Regions from separate parts of the Homo sapiens genome. Here regions 2, 3 and 4 are each linked to region 1. The links come from fine-mapping of genetic effects on gene expression. A gene starts in region 1. Each other region holds a variant in brackets. All regions are shown on one strand. Distances are from middle to middle. Region 1 holds the start of PAG1 (phosphoprotein membrane anchor with glycosphingolipid microdomains 1). Region 2 has its middle 53 kb from the start of PAG1. Region 3 overlaps PAG1 (phosphoprotein membrane anchor with glycosphingolipid microdomains 1). Region 4 overlaps LOC105375924 (a long non-coding RNA gene).

The links. PIP is the estimated chance that this variant, and not a neighbour inherited with it, causes the effect. A credible set is the group of variants that fine-mapping cannot tell apart.
Region 2: its variant is the best candidate, but not a certain one, in a credible set for the expression of PAG1 in whole blood (INTERVAL, PIP 0.79).
Region 3: its variant is the best candidate, but not a certain one, in a credible set for the expression of PAG1 in whole blood (INTERVAL, PIP 0.62).
Region 4: its variant is the best candidate, but not a certain one, in a credible set for the expression of PAG1 in neutrophils (CEDAR, PIP 0.69).

Annotation. Positions count from the first base shown.
Region 1 is chr8:81,109,186-81,114,338 of GRCh38, reverse strand. It overlaps PAG1 (phosphoprotein membrane anchor with glycosphingolipid microdomains 1), which reads left to right and starts at 2,271. Exons shown (of 9, transcript NM_018440.4): 1 at 2,271-2,748. RefSeq lists a silencer at 2,136-2,265 and an enhancer at 2,756-2,825.
Region 2 is chr8:81,162,052-81,167,204 of GRCh38, reverse strand. It overlaps a transcript of LOC105375924 not described here. Among named protein-coding and RNA genes, the nearest start is that of PAG1, 53 kb to the right of the region's middle. The variant G/A (reference allele first, on the strand shown) is at 2,937.
Region 3 is chr8:80,972,259-80,977,411 of GRCh38, reverse strand. PAG1 (phosphoprotein membrane anchor with glycosphingolipid microdomains 1) reads left to right here. Exons shown (of 9, transcript NM_018440.4): 9 at 506-5,153. The coding sequence ends at 868. Among named protein-coding and RNA genes, the nearest start is that of ZNF704, 100 kb to the right of the region's middle. The variant A/C (reference allele first, on the strand shown) is at 3,132.
Region 4 is chr8:81,151,354-81,156,506 of GRCh38, reverse strand. All of the region lies in intron 1 of LOC105375924 (a long non-coding RNA gene), which reads right to left. Among named protein-coding and RNA genes, the nearest start is that of PAG1, 42 kb to the right of the region's middle. RefSeq lists an enhancer at 2,298-2,347. The variant A/T (reference allele first, on the strand shown) is at 2,031.

The DNA.
Region 1 (5,153 bases):
TTAGGAATTAATTTCATAATCACACCGAAGAATGGCTGTAATGGAAGAGTTAGATAAGAAGTAAAGATAAAGGCAGGTAGACCACAGTTGGCAGTGTAGCATTCCCAGTCAAACCTCTGGATTAGAAGACTGTATATAACTATCACATACTTGCTTCCAAAACATTACTCAGACCGAGAGTATAGCCCATAGCATCTACCACAAGCACAAGAATTGATCCTGACACTTTTGGTTCTCTATCTAGGAGTGGCTTTGAAATACATTTGAGTTCCAATTTACTGATGGCAAATCCTGATATGAAAAATTTGGAAATGAAAAACAATCCTCAGCATGTTACTTGGTGAAAAGAGAGCAGAGGAAAAGGACAGAGGCTAGAGATTGGCTCCTGCCTGCATTCGTGAATTTGTCTAAATCACTTAGCTTCTGAGCCTGGGTAAAATGAGGATGGTAATTACACTTGTCACCAGATAACGTGAATATTGCCCTTCAAACTCCTCAATGAAGCCTGCACTGTGGAACTGCAATGTCCTAGGACCGGGTTGCTCTTAGAACATTTTGTTCTAAGTGTATCCTAACAAGTGTAGCAAAACTGGAAGACACAAAATGTATTTCCTCCCCACAAGAATGAAAGCCTTCCTAACTCCAAATTTAGGCACAGCCTGTAAAAGATGTGACTAGTAAACACAGAAACCATTTGCTTTATAAGGTCTAAATTGTCCTCTTCTCCAGAGTTGTAGAAGCCAAGTCCAACACGGAGATCCCTACTTTTATTCAAGTTCCACCATTAGTCAACTCATGTCCAGGATGTCTTCTTTAATATATAAAATGGGGATACTTTTTTATATTATTATTCAACTTAAGAGACCACTGTGAAATTTCAGTGAGGTAACGTATGTGAAATGTTATACTCCATAAGTTCTTAAACACCTGAGTTTCATACCATGCTCTGAAGCAAGAGGCCAAGTCTGGTTCCTGGGTCCGCTTCCCCAATGGGCTTTTCCAAGCTGTAGGCTGAGTCTAAACTGTTTCCTCCCACATACCCTTCCCTCTGCGACACACTAACAACATCCCTTACTCCATCACTGTCTTCCTTACCCTCTCCTGATGAGCCTTCTTCCCCAGCCACCTTTAAGCTCCCATTAATGATATGTGTAACGAGTGTTCAATAGAGTGTGTGTGTGTATATTTAATGCCATTTATATGTTTTTTCTTGCTAAGTAATGCATCATAATTTTAGAAAATTGGGACTAGTCAGATAAAGCACCCGTTGGTTTAGAATCCCTGACTCAAAGTCAGATGTCCTGAGTTCTAGACTTGGTTTGTCTCCTTGTAAGTGCAAAAGTTTATTCCCAATTCCAGGTTGCTAGTGTAAACTTGAAGTTTGGCCCAAACAAAACCCCTATCAGATTTATTTAGAGTGTTGATGCCAAATGGAATTCTAGAAGCCCACCTTTGCCAGGGGCTGAGCCAGAACCACTATCACTGGGGGTACGGCCTGGGCATTTGTTCTGCGTTTTTTATAAGCCCCTCGGGTGACTGTCAGACAGGCCAACTGTTTCAGAAGCTCTGCTCCAGGCTCTAGATCACACGTTAAGTAGCAAGGATGGGGGTCTGGACCTCCAGTATTGGCATCCTCCGAGAGCTTGTTAGAAAGGATGTCTCCCTCATTATCCCAGGCCTACTGAATCTGAATCTTGCATCTCATCACAATCCGCAGGAGATTCTGTCACACACTGAGGGTTTGAGAAGCACTGCTGTACCTTGGTATCTTTAGATACCTACTGATACCTGGGTGGGCCCCACCCAGACATTGTCCTGTACTTGTTCTGGGATGCGTCCGGGGCAAAGGGTTCTTACAAGCTCCCCAAGTTATTTTAATGCACAGCCACAATAGAAGATCACTGTCCCCCAAATGGCAACCCTTTACGGTTAAGCTGTAACCTGAATTAAATTGGCTTTTGTGGGCTCCCCAGGGACCTTAAGGACCGCTTAAACGGTGCTGTTTAAAGGACAATGGGCTCCTGGGACAAGTTCAACCACAGAGCTTTGGGTTCATAAAATCAGGGCAGGGAAGACTTCCTGCATCCTCCCGCGAGCAAGCCAGGCCCCGCGCCGGTCCTCACCCGTGTGCACCCCCAGCCCGGCCCCGCCCGGCTCGCCCCCTCCCGCCCCGCGGCCCGCCCCTCCTCCCCCGTGACGTGCCGCTGCGGCCAGGATCATGCGCACTCGCGCCCCGCTCCCCGCGCGGCTGCTCCGCCTCGGCGCCTGTCATTCTCCGCGGCGCGGCGGCGAGTGCTGGCTGCGGTACCCTCCCGCTCGCTTGTCCGTCTGCGCGCCCGCGATGTGACCAGCCGACTGGGGGCGGGCTGGCGGCTCTGCCTGCGGCAGCGCATCGGTTTTTCTCCTGGCAGGTCCCTAATTGAGCCGTGATTCCCTTGGAGCCAGAGACACCCACCAGGGGCTCGGAGCGCCGCGCTCCGGGGCTGGAGGCAGCTGCAGCGCTCGGGTCCGCGCGGCCGGGTGCAGTAGCCTCAGTCCCAGCCGCCGCCTCGCTGAGTCGTGTGCCCTGGCGAATGCCCGGCGCCCGGCACAGCTGAGCCAAGGCGACTGGTGCAGAGCGGCGGCGCCTGGTCCTGCACTTGCCGCTGCTGCCGGGCTGTGCCGGGGCGGCGGCGCTGCGCGCCGGAGTTTGCAGAGGCTGCCTCCGAGCGCCGTCCGCCAGGAAGACTCCCTGCCTCCTGAGTCCCAGTAAGTTGACTGTAGTTTCTGAAGTTGGAGGGAGCCGTGGGAAGGAGAGGTTCGTTTTTATCTTCTTGTGGGAAGCCGAGGGTGGCACCTCTTGTTAACAGAGTTCCAGCTCGAGGAGGGAGTGCGGGGTGCCAAGAAGGGGACAAGGCAGCTGGAAGGTCTGGAGTCCAGGGCTGGCTGACCTCAGCATCTCACGAATGTGCCAGTTGGAAATATGCTGGGAGAGGACAGGTACTCCTAGGGCATTTCGACTGCTGCGTGCTAATTATTCATTCCAAGCTCCTTGACTCTGTGTTTACGTTGGGGTGAAGGGGCTGGGCAGGGTCTTGTCACCTCCATCCTAATTCCTCTGGGGAGTGTGGCCAGCACTGCGATGGATCTTTGGGCGAGCCATTTCTTTCAGGCCTGCAGGCTTCCCGCGCATCCCGCTTTACTCTTCCCCTAGGCAGAAGTTGCCAACCTTTTCATAATTGGAGCCTAGTCCTTTAGGGAAAAAACAACTTATATGTCGACCCGGTGTTTTATGCCCTAAGGCAAATAAAACGAGCTCTGGGCGTGTGAATTCATACACTTTAAGAATGTAGGCAAGTCTCAAGAAATAGGATTCAGATAATGACACTTGGATTTCACCCTGATTGTCCTGCACCTCTTATGTAAGCCTCCCGGCTGGATAACTTTATCTCTGCAGTGGCTGCAGCTGTGGCCCTCCATTCCATTTGTTTAAAGTCCAATTGAACAGTATTTACTGAAAATGCTGACATGATATAGCGGCCTGAAGTCTGAAACAGAGTGCACTCTTCAAATTGGAGTGTCTTCTCCTAATAGGGAGCATGGGAGGAACAACCCACTATATTTTTCAAGGCAGCTCCAGGAATTAGACCCATAAATCATGTTTTAAAATAGCATGCATTGTGCAGAGAGCATGCAGAGGACCGCTTTTTGAACACATCCCCTTTGTTTTAGAAAAAGTGGAAATTGTTCATGCCAGACAATTGTTGAGTCTAAAAGTTAAGTGTACTGATGGGCCTAATTATCTTAATAAACAAAGAGCATGATTTATAGGTAGCTGCAGTGCCCTACTTTGAAGGATAGAAATCTTTAACCTTTCTTTCTCAGCTGTTCCCGAGAGATTCCTTTTAAGCAGAGCTATGGATTATCATCATTGATGTTTAATACCTGAGTTGGTTAAACTTGTAAAAGGAATAGTACTTTGAAGTACCATGCAGTACTGCTGTGTGACTGTTACACAGCGAATATTATAAATAAGAGGAATATTTGGAGTATTGGGTATAGATGTCATTAGTTTAACAAAATAGGTCATATTAAGACTTTCCTGCTAAATATATATACACATACATAAATGTTTAATTTGGACTTGAAATTATTGTTTAAACCAAAGCTCAGGGGTATGTTTTAATGTAAGATTTATTTACATAATCTTTGAAGAGAGAAGTGCATTTATTTATGGTATTTCAGCATGCAGAACAAGATGAACTAGTTATAGGCACCTTATTTAAAGTGTAAAGGGTTTTTTTTTAGGAATACTAAGAAAATACACAAAATGTTATTTCAGAAGTTGAAAAGTTAGTCACATCAACACATTGCGGTTTGTGAGAGCATCCAGTGCTTATCTCTAGAAGAGATTACATCCAAGCATGGAATCTCAAACAGATTGACCCATTAAGCCCTATTGCAGCCTGGTTAGGAGGACAGGCTATGGAGCCAGGCTGCCAGCTCTGGTACCATCTGTTTGAATCTAGGCAAGTAACCCAAAGTCTGTGCCTCAGTGTCTTCATCTGTACAATGGGGATGACAGTAGTAGTACCTACCCCACTGAACAGTAGTGAGAATTAAATGAGTTCATAGACATAGAGCTGTTGGGCCAGTATCTGGCATATTAAGCTTGTTCTGGGAAAAATTTTCATTGTTATGAAAGGAAATGCATCTTTGGACTCTATGGACATTGAATTGCTGCTATGGACATTGAATTGCTGCTGATGAATATTAACAGAAGCAGTTCATGTGTATAATAGGAGAGAAGGTATAAACATTTATTGTGCACTGTCTAGCGATACAGACACCAACTGGTATTTAACACTGTCTTGCTCAATTCCCCACCACAGTCCTTTGAGGTAAGTGGCTTCATCTCTACTTTAGAGATGAGAAAATGGGAGCTCAGTGAGATCAAATAGTAGAAATTGGAGCTGGCATTTAACCCACGTCTGTCTGTGTTGAAACTGTGTTCTTTTTGACCCTGCTGCCTCAACTTGCAAATGAAGTAGTTGCATTATTATCCTCAATTTATACATGAAGAAATCTAAGCTTAAGGATTAAAGTATGCAAAGTGCTTAACAGCACCCACAACAGAAATGATCATAATTATTGTTAAATAACTTGCCCATGCT
Region 2 (5,153 bases), 53 kb before region 1:
ACTTTCAGGTACACCAATCAAATGTAGGTTTGGTCTTTTCACATTGTCCCATATTTCTGGAGGCTTTGTTCGTTCCGTTTCTTTCTTTTTTCTCTAATCTTGTCTTCATGCTTTATTTCATTAAGTTGATCTTCAGTCTCTGATATCCTTTCTTCTGTTTGATCAATTCAGCTACTGATACTTGTGTATGCTTCATGAAGTTCTCATGCTGTGTTTTTCAGCTCCATCAGGTCATTTACATTCTTCTCTAAACTGGCTATTCTACTTAGCAGTTCCTGTAACCTTTGATAAAGTTTCTTAGCTTCCTTGCATTGGATTAGAACACGCTCCTTTAGCTCAGAGGAGTTTGTAATTACCCATCTTCTGAAGCCTACTTCTGTCAATTCATCAAACTCATTCTCCATCCAGTTTTGTTCCCTTGCTGGCAAGGAGTTGTGATCCTTTGGAGGAGAAGAAGCATTCTGGTTTATGGAATTTTCAGCCTTTTTGCGTTGGTTTTTCCTCATCTTCGTGGATTTATCTACCTTTGATCTTTGATGTTGATGACCTTTGGATAGGGTTTTTTCATGGGCATCCTTTTTGTTGATGTTGATGTTATTGCTTTCTGTTTGTTAGTTTTCCATCTAACAGTCAGGACCCTCTTCTGCAAGTCTGCTGGAGTTTGCTGGGGGTCCACTCCAAACCCTGTTTGCCTGGGTATCACCAGCAGAAGCTGTAGAACAGCAAAGATTGCTGCCTGTTCCTTCCTCTGGAAGCTTTGTCCCAGAGGGACACCTGCCAGATGCTAGCCGGAGCTCTCCTGTATGAGGTGTCTGTCGACCCCTGCTGGGAGGTATCTCCCAGTCAAGAGGCACGGGGTTCAGGGACCCAGTTGAGGAGGCAGTCTGTACCTTAGCAGAGCTCAAGCACTGTGCTGGGAGATCGGCTGCTCTCTTCAGAGCCTGCAGGTAGGAACGTTTAAGTCTGCTGAAGCTGTGCCCACAGCCACTCCTTCCCCCAGGTGCCCTCTCCCAGGGAAATGGGAGTTTTTATCTATAAGCCCCTGACTGGGGCTGCTGCCTTTCTTTCAGGGATGCCCTTCCCAGAAAGGAGGAATCTAGAGATGTGGTCTGGCTACAGCAGCTTTGCTGCACTGCGATGGGATTCGTCCCATTTGAACTTCCCTCTGGCATTTTTTTTAACACCGTGAGGGGAAAACCGCCTATTCAAGTCCCAGTAATGCCGGATGCCCCTACCCCCCAGCAAGCTGGAGCATCCCAGGTGGATTTCAGACTGCTGTGCTGGCAGCGAGAATTTCACGTCAGTGGATCTTAGCTTGCTGGGCTCCGTGGGTGTAGGATCTGCTGAGCAAGACCACTTGGCTCCCTGGCTTCAGCCCCCCTTTCCAGGGGAGTGAATGGTTCTGTCCATTCTGGCTCTGCTTGGCTTTCCAGCCTCCTGCAGCTAGCTCAGTGTCTGCCCTAACAACCACCCAGTTTTGTGCTTGAAACTCAGGACCCTGGTGGTGTAGGCAGCCAGGGGAATCTCCTGGTCTGCGGGTTGCGAAGACTGTGGGAAAAGCATAGTATTTGAGCCGGATTGCACCGTCCCTCAAGGCACATTCCCTCACTGCTTCCCTTGGCTGGGAAGGGAGTTCCCCAACCTCTTGTGCTTCCTGGGTGAGGTGACCACCCCCACCCCCCACCGCCTGACCCGCTTTGGCTTGCCCTCCATGGGCTGCACCCACTGTATTACCAGTCCCAATGAGATGAGCCAGGTACCCCAGTTGTAAATGCAGAAATCACTCACCTTCTGTGTTGTTCTCACTGGGAGCTGCAGACCAGAGCTGTTCCTATTTGGCCAGCTTGCCAGATCTCACACATTATTTTTATTATTGAAGATTTAAAATGTGTTTAAATGTGTGAAAGAACTAGTTCTCTTTATGATCACTTTTCCAGATTTTTCTTGACTATTTTTGTTTTTTATTTTTTCATTTGAACTTTAGTATTAGCTTGTCTCTGATTACAAAATAAAAATGCTGTTGCTATTTTTATTGAATTAAATTTTTGTGATGTTGACTTTTCCTATCTAAGAAATTATATGCTTTCCCATTTATTCATTTTATTTTGTGTTTTTTGGTAGCATCTTAAAATGTTCTTTATATAAATCATGCCCATCTCTCATACTTATTCCTAAGCGTTTTATCTTTTTTGTTGAATTGTAAATAGAGTCTTTTCTTCTCTTTTATCATATATATATAATTCACTTCTGTAGATTGCATACCCACAAACTTACTAAGTTCTCTGATTTTGGTTGGTTTCTTTGATTTTTTGTCATGAAATTGGACCTACATCTATATTGAATCTTAGCTTTGCTAGATTTAATATGCCTTGAAGTCAAGAGCTACACCAATCCTTTGCATTTGGTAAATGATGCTATTTGATCCCAGGTCACATCTTCTATAAAAGCATTATTTCATCCTGGTTTTGGCATATGAAGCAATGTTATGGCTGATGTTGATTTGTTTGCTTTTCTTCAATATTTAAAACAATATCCAGTTGTTAGTTTTTTGTTATCAATCCATGAGTATCTTGGAAGAGTACTATAATTTTACACTTTATCAAAAGAGGAAATATGTGGCTTTTATTGCTCAAACAAATAAGTTTCAGCAGGGCACGGCTGCTCACACCTGTAATCCCAGCACTTTGGGAGGCTGAAGCAGGTGGATCACCTGAGGTCGGGAGTTCGAGACCAGCCTGACCAACATGGAGAAACCCCATCTCAACTAAAAATACAAAATTAGCCGGGCATAGTGGTGCATGCCTGTAATACTAGCTACTCAGGAGACTGAGACAGGAGAATCACTTGAACCTAGGAGGTCAAGGTTGCGGTGAGCCAAGATCACACCATTGCACTCCAGCCTGGGCAACAAGAATGAAACTCTGTCAAAAAAAAAA[G/A]AAAGAAAGAAAGAAAGAAAATTTCAATTATTCTAGGATATGTCTTTTCTCTTACCATGAATCATCCAACTGATTACCCACATGGGCCTCACACTAGACCAAGTACTTTTTGAGCAGCATAGTATCAGAAGTACCAGCTATTGTGAGCCAAGAATGTGAATACTGAAGAAAAGCTGGAAAGATCAAGCACTATCAATGATCGAAGCTAAGGCAGGTAGGCAAATTGATGTCAGCATGCATCTATAAACCACAATAGTCAGAAGCCAAGCAAGTAGACAATAATTGGTGAGTGAAGTTGGGGGTGGGGGGTGATATGTAATAGAGCATGAGAAAAATCAATGGCAAAAAGACTAGATAGAAATATTATATGTAACTCATGAAAGACCAAAGACAAATTGTCCAACAATAAAGGAAAAAGCTACAGTAAATATGCTAGACTATATGCAGCTATTAAAATTATAACTCTGATCATTAGGTAGAAACATTGAAAAGTATTTACAAAATGATTCTAAGTGAATAAAAAAGTCATAATAACTACATATTCAGTATTTATTATTTCTAATTTAAAAACCAACTATAAAGGCAAAATAATGGAGACAAAAATATCAGTTGTTTCCAGAGGTCAGAAGGGAGTGAAGCACAGAGAATCTTAAGAGCAGAGAAACTACTCTGTATGACGTAGCCATGCATCACTTAACAACAGGGAAACATTCTGAGCAATGCGCCATTAGGCAATTTCATTGCTGTGCGAACATCACAGAATATACTTCTACCAATCTGGATGCTGTAGCCTACACATACAGCCTATTGCTCCTAGTCTACAAACCTAGGCAGCATGTTACTACATTGAATATTATAGGCAATTATATCACAATGGTAAGTATATGTGTATCTGAACATATCTAAACATTGAAAAGATACGGTAAAGTTACAGTATTATAATCTTATGAGACCATCCTTGTATATGCAGTCTGTGATTGACTGAGATGTTGTTATGCAACAAATGACTGTACCATAATGTTGGATATAGGTCATTATACATTTATCCAAACCCATAAAATGTACAACACCAAGGGTGAACCCTAATGTAAACTATGGACTTCGGGTGATAATGATGTGTCAATGTAGGTTCATTAACTGTAATGGATGTAGCATTCTAGAGGGGAATGTTGATCATGGGGGAGGCTATACATGTCTCAGGGCAGGGGACATATGGGAAATCTCTATATCTTCCACTCAATTTTTCTGTGATCTGAAATCTGCTCTAAAAAATAAAGATTTTATTTTTAAAAATTAACTACATGTGGACAAAATTTGTGAAATAACACGAAGAAATAACTATTAGAGAGTTGGGATTATGTTGTGATTTAGAAAATAGACTTTTTGTTGATTGATTTAGCCAAAAAAAATTTAATTCTATTGTAAAGATATGAGTTTAAGAAAATGGGCAAAGTGATGACAAAAAGAAAACCTGATAACTAAGGCTGGCATTTGCTTTAATCAAGAAATTATATATGCCTCCCATTGTTATCATTAATAAGAGCTAATACTTGTATATTATTTCCTGCATGCTGAGTCCTTAAAACAAAAATTAGTCCTCACCTATGATTAGAATCCACTTTGCGTATATCTTTTCTTTCATTCCTGTCAGAAATGGATAAAATGAGAGTATGCCACTGCATATGGAGAAAACAAGAGACATAGCAAAATAAAGGTATTTTTCTGCTTTCACTGTATAAGGATACAAGAGAAATATACAAGATGACTTCTGCCCTCAAGGCCTTTAGAACTTAGCTGGGGGAAACTGTACCTGAAATAATTGGCAGCGAAAGATACTGTTTTCTGTTGCATCAAAGTGCAATAAAATATTTTAAAAAGATAACAAATACATGAAAACAACTCCACCAGTGTTCCTCAATAGGAGTGCTGTTAGAATTAGTGACAGAACATTTCTTTCTTTGTGCAGAACTCTCTCATGCATTGTAAGATTGCTTACATCCCTGGCCCCTGTCCTTTAAATGCCAGGTGTTCCCAGCCATTGTGTCAAACAAAAATAAATTTAATTTCAAATGCCTCTCACATTTATTTACAAATTAAGACTCTTTAGACCAAACATTTTCAAACTCTAGTGTTCCAAAGAATCTTAAGTGCTTTGGTGCATCCTGTTCAACTTATCAATATTGAAAACCATAGTAAAAATAATACTGATAACCTGTG
Region 3 (5,153 bases), 140 kb after region 1:
TCTGATTTGGTGGTTCTGGGATGAGGCCTGAGAACTTGCCTTTCTGACAAATTCCCAGATCCTGTTGCTGCTGGTTTACAGCCCACACTTTGAGAATCACCGGTCTACTATGTGTTTTCTGTCCTTTTTTGTAAAGCAGTGGAGCCCCTTTTCAGGCAAAATATCATTCTGATAAAGAAATGAAATAAAACACATGCTGTGGTCAGGTCCCCGGGGCCTTCAGGAGCTTCCCACTCCACCTCTCCTCAAATTCCTCGGCAGACCCAAGAGAACTGGGTTTTCACGGAATTAAGGGAATATGACTGATCTAGTTAACATAGTTGAAGATAGTGTGTGTAATTATTCTCTAGTAATGTGCTCCATAATTAGTACAGATAAGAAAGAACAAATCTTTAAGGAGTACACACACAGAAACCCAGGAGTGCTCAGTATGTAGCTTGTCACTAAAAAGAGGGAGGGGGAAGTCACAGCTGGAAGTTTATTCAACTCTCCCTTTGTCTCCTAGATCTCAGCTATGTACTCATCAGTAAATAAACCTGGACAGTTAGTGAATAAATCGGGGCAGTCGCTTACAGTTCCGGAGTCCACCTACACCTCCATTCAAGGGGACCCACAGAGGTCACCCTCCTCCTGTAATGATCTCTATGCTACTGTTAAAGACTTCGAAAAAACTCCAAACAGCACACTTCCACCAGCAGGGAGGCCCAGCGAGGAGCCAGAGCCTGATTATGAAGCGATACAGACTCTCAACAGAGAGGAAGAAAAGGCCACCCTGGGGACCAATGGCCACCACGGTCTCGTCCCAAAGGAGAACGACTACGAGAGCATAAGTGACTTGCAGCAAGGCAGAGATATTACCAGGCTCTAGCAACCCAGAAGACAACCCTGGGTAGCCTGTGATCAGTGTCTGGAGACGTTTCTTCTGTGGAAGAGAAGAAGTGACACAAACCTATACTTCATATGCTGCTTTAGTCACCTGAAGATGGTTGGAGAGGCCCTGTCGACTGTTCTCCCAGTTGTTCAGTTTCTGAGACAGAGAGGTACGGACTAGGCTGCACCTGAGTGTGCCCCTGCCTGCCAGATGGACAGGTACACCCAAGCACATCTCCCTGCTGCACCCTCACCACCCACAAAAGATCCCAGCTGTCAGTGGTCTCATCTCATTAGTGAGGAAAGCCAAGCTGTATGGAAAAGCTGCACTCACCAAGGACCACAATGCCCCCGGCCTAAAGTACTGCCATTCAGAAAAGCAGGTTTTTCTTCCTCTCTTTCCTTTTCTCTGTCTGCTACTGACTTTAAGGCTTTTTCCCCCTTGAAATGTCCAGATTCCTGTGGTTCATCCCAAGGAAATTTTCACACAAAGCTTGGCCTTTGCCCTCAATATAGGTGTTTTAGGATGGTGACAAACCATGGCTGCTGCTTTCTGCCCAGCTCGCCAGTCCTCCCCAAAGAGTTGCGCATCAGCACCTGGGGATCTGGACCCTGCGGGTGAAGGGATGGGGAGGGACGTCCCTGGAGTCTCTTCTGTCTTTGTTCCTTCTTATTTTGGCATTCGATATCAGCAGCCTCTCCCCAAAGTACTTGAAGTCAGTTTTAGATGCTTTATTTTATTTTTCTAGTCAAAAACGTGTTTCCCCCAGTGTTTGAAAACTCGTCCGAATCTTTTCAGTATTTTCCATGAGTATTGTGGTACTTCTAGACTTGTTTAAGCCCAGAACTCATTCCTTCAAAACAGAGAGCCTTAATCTTTATGTTGGGACACAGACCACATATTTGGACGGCAGCCATGCATCCATCGCTGAAGGGCTGTGGACATGAATGTGTATTTCCCATGGTCTCCGCTGCCCACACCAACAGTGTGGCATCTCATAAGTTAACTGCTACCCTAAGGTAATCTAAGATTAAAATGTAAACATTTATTTTTGTTATGTAAGTTTATAAGATGTTTTATGTTCAATGCCTAATTTCTCAAAAGTGCCAGAAAAAAATGTATATTAGCTATTTTGATTTTATGTACAATGATTTATACTCTCCTTTTGAAAAGATACCATAAAGCACATAAGCTAGATCACTACAAGGAGCTGTTATCTTTTTTCTAATCAAGTGTTTAAAACACTGATGGTTTTTAAAGACTCACCTTTTTAAATGGTACTTGGAGCTCCTGATTCAAATTACCTAGACCCCCTAGAGAAATAAATGGAATATACATAAATAATCATTTTCAGTGGTTTATGGTGGGCAATATTGCAATATTTGAAATGGTAAAAATGGAAAGAAGAACAAAATATGATGAGAGGTGGCTGTGAATTATAAACCTCATAAAAGTGTCATAATTCCATTAAGGTTTAATTATATTTTTTCAGAAAACAGTGATGAATTCTGTAGTCCAGTGCTTGCCAATGCAAATTGCCTATTGGAATCTTCTTCCTATATTTTACAAACATCAGTGGCTGAAATAGCTCAGAGTAAGAGCTCAGCCTGGTTTGAATTTAATCATCTCTTTAGATCTTATAAGGCCAGCATTAGGAAACTTGTTCACTTTTCATTTTCAAAGGAGCCTAGTTGAAGTGCTATTATGAGTGTGGGCTATGGAAAGACAGCTTTTCCTACACTGATAAAGAAAAAAAATGAGGAAATTATTTCATCCCCTTGTGACATCTGTGACTTTTTGGATTTAATAATCTTGCTGTTTTTCCTCTTTATGACAAAGAATATAATTGGGAGGATGAAGTGTCTTAAAAATTGTAGAGACCAGCTCACTGGAATGTTTTTCCATCCCTGTATTCATGGCTTGACTTTGTGACTGCTCTACACTGCATGTCTGACATTGCAGAGTGAGCTATGTTGAGGTAAACTGGTTGGTTGTCATTATTTTGCAATCAGCCTGGTCTCTCCCATGAAGATGTCGTGTGCATAAGCACAATCATCACTGATTAGAAGATCACAGCAGAATACCCTTGGATTAGAGAGAAGTTCGTACCTTGCATTTCTCTGAATTCTAGTCTCTCATAAGCACTGCTTTGCTGGATGATTTTCACTGCTTTGTGTTAATGACTTTGAGCGATCTCTCACATGATGGGGTTCTTTAGTACATGGTAACAGCCATGTCATCTTACACACCTAGCATTGTG[A/C]ATGCTGTAGTGACATCCTTTATAGGCACCTTACAGCTCAAAACTTTTGTTTCATTTCATGCCTTACTTATCAAAAAGGCAGGAAAGTAGGTATGATCTCTAAAGTAAAAAAAAAAAAAAAAAAAAAACTTTTTATAGAAAGCTCATAAATAATCATGTCATTTTGCAATTTTGTTACCAAAATTTCCCCCAAGAGTTTTCAAATATTAGTTCTGCAATGTGGCTATGAAATATGCACTGAAATATACCTTTTAATTTGAGAACCAGTGGTTAGAATAAGCTGTGATATAAAGTATTTTCAGTGTACTTTTAAAGGAACTATAAGGCCCTCCAGCATAAACGCTAAAAGAATAGATGGTAGCACAGGCCATGAGGGCTGGGGGAGAGAAGCAGAGTGAACCTTAGAAAGATGGCTCAGCTATTTGGAGCACTGGATATTTTACTGAAGTTATTTACTGAGGCACCATCACTGTTTTGACTGTACAGTATAGTTTTTCATAAATTTCATCACATTTACTTTGTTCAGAATCTGGGCTTGAATCTTTGAGTTGGACAAAAGCCTATGGTTTCTTTTAAAAAGTTTCATCTTGAGCTAATGCTACAGTTTAAATAAAATGTATGAAAGGTAGTTATCAAAAACAATTTGTATATTTAAAATTCTATTTTGACATCCATTTTTTACAGCGAATTATAGCAGGTTATGTGAAATTTAAAAATAAATTTTAGGAAATTTTTTTATCTTGTAAGTAAGAATTATAAATCTATCTCAGTTAAAAGTAGGATCTTTGTTTTTATTCAGATATTTTGAAAGTTTAGAAGCATTTTGTATGCTACTTTGGTATTTCTTAAGTATAGTCAGCAGGAAAGGGTAACCTGTTTTATGCAAAATTTTTTTAATTTGTCAAATGTTTTTAGTGTGTCTACTTTCTGAAATAGTCTCAATATCCTGTCTGTATCCTAGGCAGATAACTACACAAGAACAAAACGCTATATAGAAAAGAAAATATTTGAGGAAATCTTAAATTCCATAAGAAAGTAATTCTTGCAAGAATGTTGGCTACATATTTTTTTTTCTGTCCTGAATAAATTACATCATTAGGTCTGTTGAAGCTTTTGAAGCTACCACTATTCTTTCTGGGATAAAGGCTAATTACTGATTTATCTGCCCTCAAAATCCCAGAGTTAATTCTAATTGAGTACTAAATTAACAGTAAGTAGTTAACACAGAGAACTAAAATTTAACCGCATTATATCACTGTATATATTTCTCATGATTTTTGCTAATTAGAGCATTTACTTAACCAGTAATAAACTACACACACACACACACACACACACACGTATACGTGTGTGTGTGTATATACTTGGCTCTGACACAACTCTGGTGCTTAATTAGGATATGTTCTATTATGTATTTTGAATGTTTATCCTGCTAGTGTGATGAACTTTTGTTGGAAAAGCAGAATTAGAAGGAACAGTTTTTCAATCAGTTTCATTTGGTAATTACAGGAAAACCTTGAGTTGCTCTAATTTAATTTTTCCAATTAATACATTTAGACTTTAAATTGCATCCGTAATTCTCTTGGCTGAAAAACAGTGGTATTTTAAGACAGTTTTGTTATACATGTGACTTACTTTTGACTCAGCCTGAGAGGAGGAAATGTAAAGAGATAAGAGATTTGGCCCAAAGCAGCAAGAGACTAGTAACCTTGAGCCAGGACGAAGCCAAGACAACGTGACTCCCAAGTAGCAGGAGCAGAGGTCGGTCACCTGTGGCATTCTGTTTCATTCCCTTTTAAAATTATGAGACTTTATAGGCAGTGTAAAACATCAGCAGGCAGCGATGTGATAGGATGTGCGAAAAAGCTGGTCTGATACCATGGCTATAATTACAGAGCTTTAGTTCAATTAGGATTTTGTAAATGAGCAAATGACCTTTTTTTCCAGTGCCCCTTGTAATAGTTAATATGAGTCCATGCAATCTTGTGATGCCATTCTCCTGAAGGTGTTGATTTCTGGTAC
Region 4 (5,153 bases), 42 kb before region 1:
GTCCCTAGGGAGGCAAAAATCACACCCAGTTGAGAACCACTGTGCAACACTGTGTAACCTTGGGCAAGTTGCTTCACTTCTCTAAATCTGTTCTTTTTTTTTTCTTTTTTCTTTTTTTTCTTTTTTTTTTTTTTTTTGAGATGGACTCTTGTTCTGTTGCCCAGGCTGGAGTGCAGTGGTGCCATCTCGGCTCACTGCAACCTCTGCCTCCTGGGTTCAAGCTATTCTCCTACCTCAGCCTCCCAAGTAGCTGGGATGACAGGCGTGAACCACCACACCTGGCTAATTTTTGTATTTTTAGTAGAGACAGGGTTTCACCATGTTGGCCAGCTGGTCTCGAACTCCTGACCTCAGGTGATCCGCCCACCTTGGCCTCTCAAAGTGCTGGGATTACAGGTGTGAGCCACGGTGCCCAGCCCTCTAAATCTGTTTCTTGTCTATAAAATGAGTATAATAATAGTACTGACCTCATAGGTTTAGAAGATGATTAAATGAATTGGTGAACATTAAGCACTTATCAGAGTAAATGGACACTTAAGTGCATAGTATGTGTTTAATAATAAGGTAATAATAATAATGGCAGTACTGTAAAAAAATCTGATTTTATAGTGATATATTTTTATGGCTAGAATTCAAGGTTTAATTTCCTCTTCTTTGATTAAAATAATAAAATAAGGTACTCATTAGTAATAAAAATAAGGTACTTATTCCTAATATCTATTTCAGCAAATGAATCAAAGGCTGAATCTCAATGTGAATAAATCAAAGTGAAAAAGTTTGACATCAGTCACTTTTGATCTTTCATTACCAAACACCAATTAATGCTCTTAAGTTAAACATGACCACGTGTCATTTTGTTGTAGCTAAGTGAATTCGGAGTGTGAAGGAGATAAAAAGAACTCTGCTTAAAAAGTAAATAGAAAATTTGAATGCTGTGTATTTCAGAATAATCTTGCAGACTTTACACCTCAGTATTTTATAAAATACAGATTTAAAATGTACATTTAGTAAAACAAATTTTTTAGCATAGTCTGCAATCTCTGACTTAAAGACATGAATATTTTGGGTTTATTAGCATAAATTGAATACCAGCATGCAAACACTGAAATGAATTTAAGGAAATTGTTAATGATTCATTACATAGAGTAATTAGGTTTTTGTATGATTAGAGTAAATGCGTTAGCAAAATCAATTATGCACTGATACAGTGAAAAACCACTCTCAGGAAAGAAGTCAATGGTGTAATAAAAAGGACATTTTTGCAGGGCTCCTCCTGCACTTTCTTGACAATCACAAACAGCTGTTGCCATCTGCCAGGGTGAGCCCTTGGCAAAAAGGCATGACAAACCTCTGCCAAACCCTGGTCTGTTGAAAGTGTCCACCCCACAACTCTCAGAGACCGAGTATCCTTAAGAGATAGTAAATGAATCTCCAGTGAAACTGGCTTATGTCATTTTTAAGGGATTGTAGGCGAAAGCAAACAAGATAACACAGAAGAAGTGCATTCGTGGAGAATTGCCTTTGTGGCTCTGCTTCTATTACTTTAAATCTTTTAGAGGGTATACGCTTTTCCCCTCAATGGAATCATTGTTCAAACTTATTGTATGGTGTTGTAACTACTTCTTAATGTGTATTAAACTGCTAGTACAAGTGCCAAGACATTGTCATCTTTGTATCTCCAAGACCTAGCACAGAGCACGCACTCAGTGAGTAAAAGAATGAATAAAAGTATTGGTCCAGGCCTGGTGCAGTGGCTAACACCTGTTAATCCCAACACTTTGGGAGGCCAAGGCAGGTGGATCACCTGGGGTCAGGAGTTTGAGACCAGCCTGGCCAACATGGTGAAACCCTGTCTCTACTAAAAATACAAAAACTAGCCGGGTGCGGTGGCTCATGCCTGGAATCCCAGCTACTTGTGAGGCTGAAGCAAGGGAATTGCTTGAACTCAGGAAGCAGAGGTTGCAGTGAGCTGAGATTGCGCCACTGCACTCCAGCCTGGGCAACAGAGGGCAACTCTGTCTCAAAAAAAA[A/T]ATATATATATATATGTGTGTGTGTGTGTGTGTGTGTGTGTGTGTGTGTGTGTATGTATGTCCAGCTTACCATGACTGCTGTACCAGGCTCCAAGATCAGTTGTGAATTTCAAATATCAATCTCAGCCTTCACAGGGTTATCTTAAGTACTGTACCTCAGGACCACTGACTCTTCTCATCATGTGTCAGCCTTCCTAGAATAGACACAGTCTGAAGCAGCAGGAAATGAGGCAATGAGAGCCATGTGACATAGGCCACATCTACACCCCTGAAGAAAAGAAGTTAGGCAATCTTCTAGATCATTGACATAGAAAAAGATTTTTGCCAGGAAATGCCAGATAACTCAGGCGAAGTGCTTTTTTCTCTGCTTGAATTAATAGTATAATTGCCTCAGTTCTCCATTTGTCTATTTTTGTTCAGACACAGCTTCAGATAAAATCATTTGCAGCAAAGAGTCCTAGGGGAATAAAAGAAAAGGAGCCCAGAGACAAAGGAGGAACCTTCTAAACTAGTTCAACTGTGTCACAGAACAGCCTGAATGCATCCAGGTGGCAGTATGGAAATTAGGAAGCGAAACTGGATCTATGCAAATGATGAGGAAATGCTTATTTGAATTTCACAAACAAGAGCGTTAGCTATTTTCACAATGTGAAGCATTTGATTTTACCTCAATGTGTCAATATTTCAAAGGCAGGTCCTTGCAGATCAATTGCTTCTATTTCTTTTCTGTGGATGTTGACTGCAAAGAGGCTTTTCTGTAAGAATGCAATCTAGAAAAGTTTAAAAGCAATAGTGGTAGAGATGAAATGGTTTTAAAAACTAAACTTAAATAATAATACTGTCTCCTAGGAAGTGATTTTGAATAATAATTTTAAAAATCAAATTAAGTCCAGTAGAGTCTCACATCAATGTTATCTCTGAAGCCCCGGCTCTGAGATCATGCTAGAGGTGGAATCATATATTAACAAGCATCTTCCGGGGCTGTCATTATCATTCTCTGTTATATTTTATTCAAGACAATTTATCTGCTATTGCTTAGCCATCTTTATAGCTTCAAGTTTCAGATTATGAGTGATCACAACAGAGTTCTAAAATCTGATAGAAAAGTAAACAGACACCATATAAATTAGAATGCAATTAGATGTAAGAAAGCTTTGTAAACTGCAACACACCATGCAAATCTGTTATTATGGTACAGAAGGCTCATTGAAGCCTGTTTTTTTCCCTTTTAACAAAATGATGTGACTAATTATGAAGATAAAAACTCGTTAAATCTTTTAAACTGATTTTCCTTTCTAATTATTGGAAGCTTATATATTGTCTGAGAGTAAATTTCTTTTCTGAAACTAGAAACTAGCCTCTCCCTGGTTTGATTGGATTTCATAGGGCCCACTGTGATACATCACCTCTGGAACTGTTTGACTCAAAGGAAGATAGGATTAGTCTACCTGTATTATAGGAATTCACCATGGAAACCATGGAACAGGAAAAAAAATTAGTAAAAGAAAAGCAAATCAAAATCACCATGACTATTGAATACAGGTAGTTAAAATTACAGTAAGAGTTCCCCCTGCTTAGTTGGGATTCTATTCCTGAGCCTTGAAAAGAACTCACAGACTTTCTTTGAGTAAGACTTGGGGCATACAATGAAATGACTTTTATCTTAAGCTAAATGACCTGCATGATAATTTTATTTCCCTTCAGAATTAATTCTTTTTTTTTTTTTACAGGCCTAACAGTTTAAAGGTAATTTGAAAAATTGATATAAACTTAAACATAAAATGGTAAACGCTCACACATGAAAAAAATCAGCTCCAGAAGTCATATCAGTAAGACTGTTGTGAATGACATTGTACACCAAATTGTGGATCATATACTTTGCTTCAAGTTTCTTTTTCATTCTTTAGGATTTTTTTTTTTCCTTCAACGTTTGCTTCACTGGGAGAGGCAAAGGTGTGCTTTTAGACATCATCAGGTTAAATAACTCTAATCTTAAACTTTTTTTTCTTTTTTTTTTTTTTTTGAGACGGAGTCTCACTCTGTCGCCCAGGCTGGAGTGCAGTGGCATGATCTCCACTCACTGCAAGCTCCGCCACCGGGGTTCACGTCATTCTCCTGCCTCAGCCTCCCGAGTAGCTGGGACTACAGGTGCCTGCCACCATGCCCGGCTAATATTTTTGTATTTTTAGTAGAGATGGGGTTTCACCGTGTTAGCCAGGATGGTCTCGATCTCCTGACCTCGTGATCCACCTGCCTTGGCCTCCCAAAGTGCTGGGATTACAGGCGTAAGCCACCGCGCCCGGCTAATCTTAAACTTTTTGAACAACTGATCTCCAAACTTTTCATTGTGTCTCCCTTTAGTTTAAAAAGAGAGATCTCTGATAGATCTATATACAAAAATTTTAAAACAGAGATATTTTAAAGATGTTTTACTAAAAGTATTCATTCTAAGAAGAGATCATCAATCCCTTGTCTAAGATATTTTTCATAATTACCTTTGATGGACTTAATAACACGTGCTATGCAGCCATTGCTTTGTTATTTGTTTTCTTTTCCTTCACTATGCTCTTGGGCTTTAATCACTTCTTAAATTGCTTCTAGATGCCTGTGTTGCCATCCTGAGTCTCACCTGGGAGATTCGCATACTTCGAACACACAATGATTCAGTTTGCAGCAATTTGGTCTCAATAGAAGTCAGTTTTCCTAAGTAAGAGCTAGCCAAATTCAATTTGAAGGAAACTTAGTGGATTAATCAAATCATCTTGACTATAATTTCATAGAATTAAGTATTTTATAAAATGAGTGGTCTATTATTACATACTTAAATTTCTTTATACAGAAATTCAATATTGCTCTAGTAATGTGTACTTGATAATATCTACATCATTCTTACCGGTTTCATTAAAAAAAAAATTTTTAACAAAAAGATCAAAGAACCCACCGTTGTATTGATACTGGTGCTGCAGTTCTAGAAAAAGAAAATATTCTTAAATATTTCTTAAAGAAAATATTTTAAAGATGGGTATTAAGGAGGACCAGAATCGAAACATTATCTTCTTTGCTATGGTTGTTGCTATTAGTTAAAACACTTTAAACCACATTTAATAAAATAAACTCACTGTT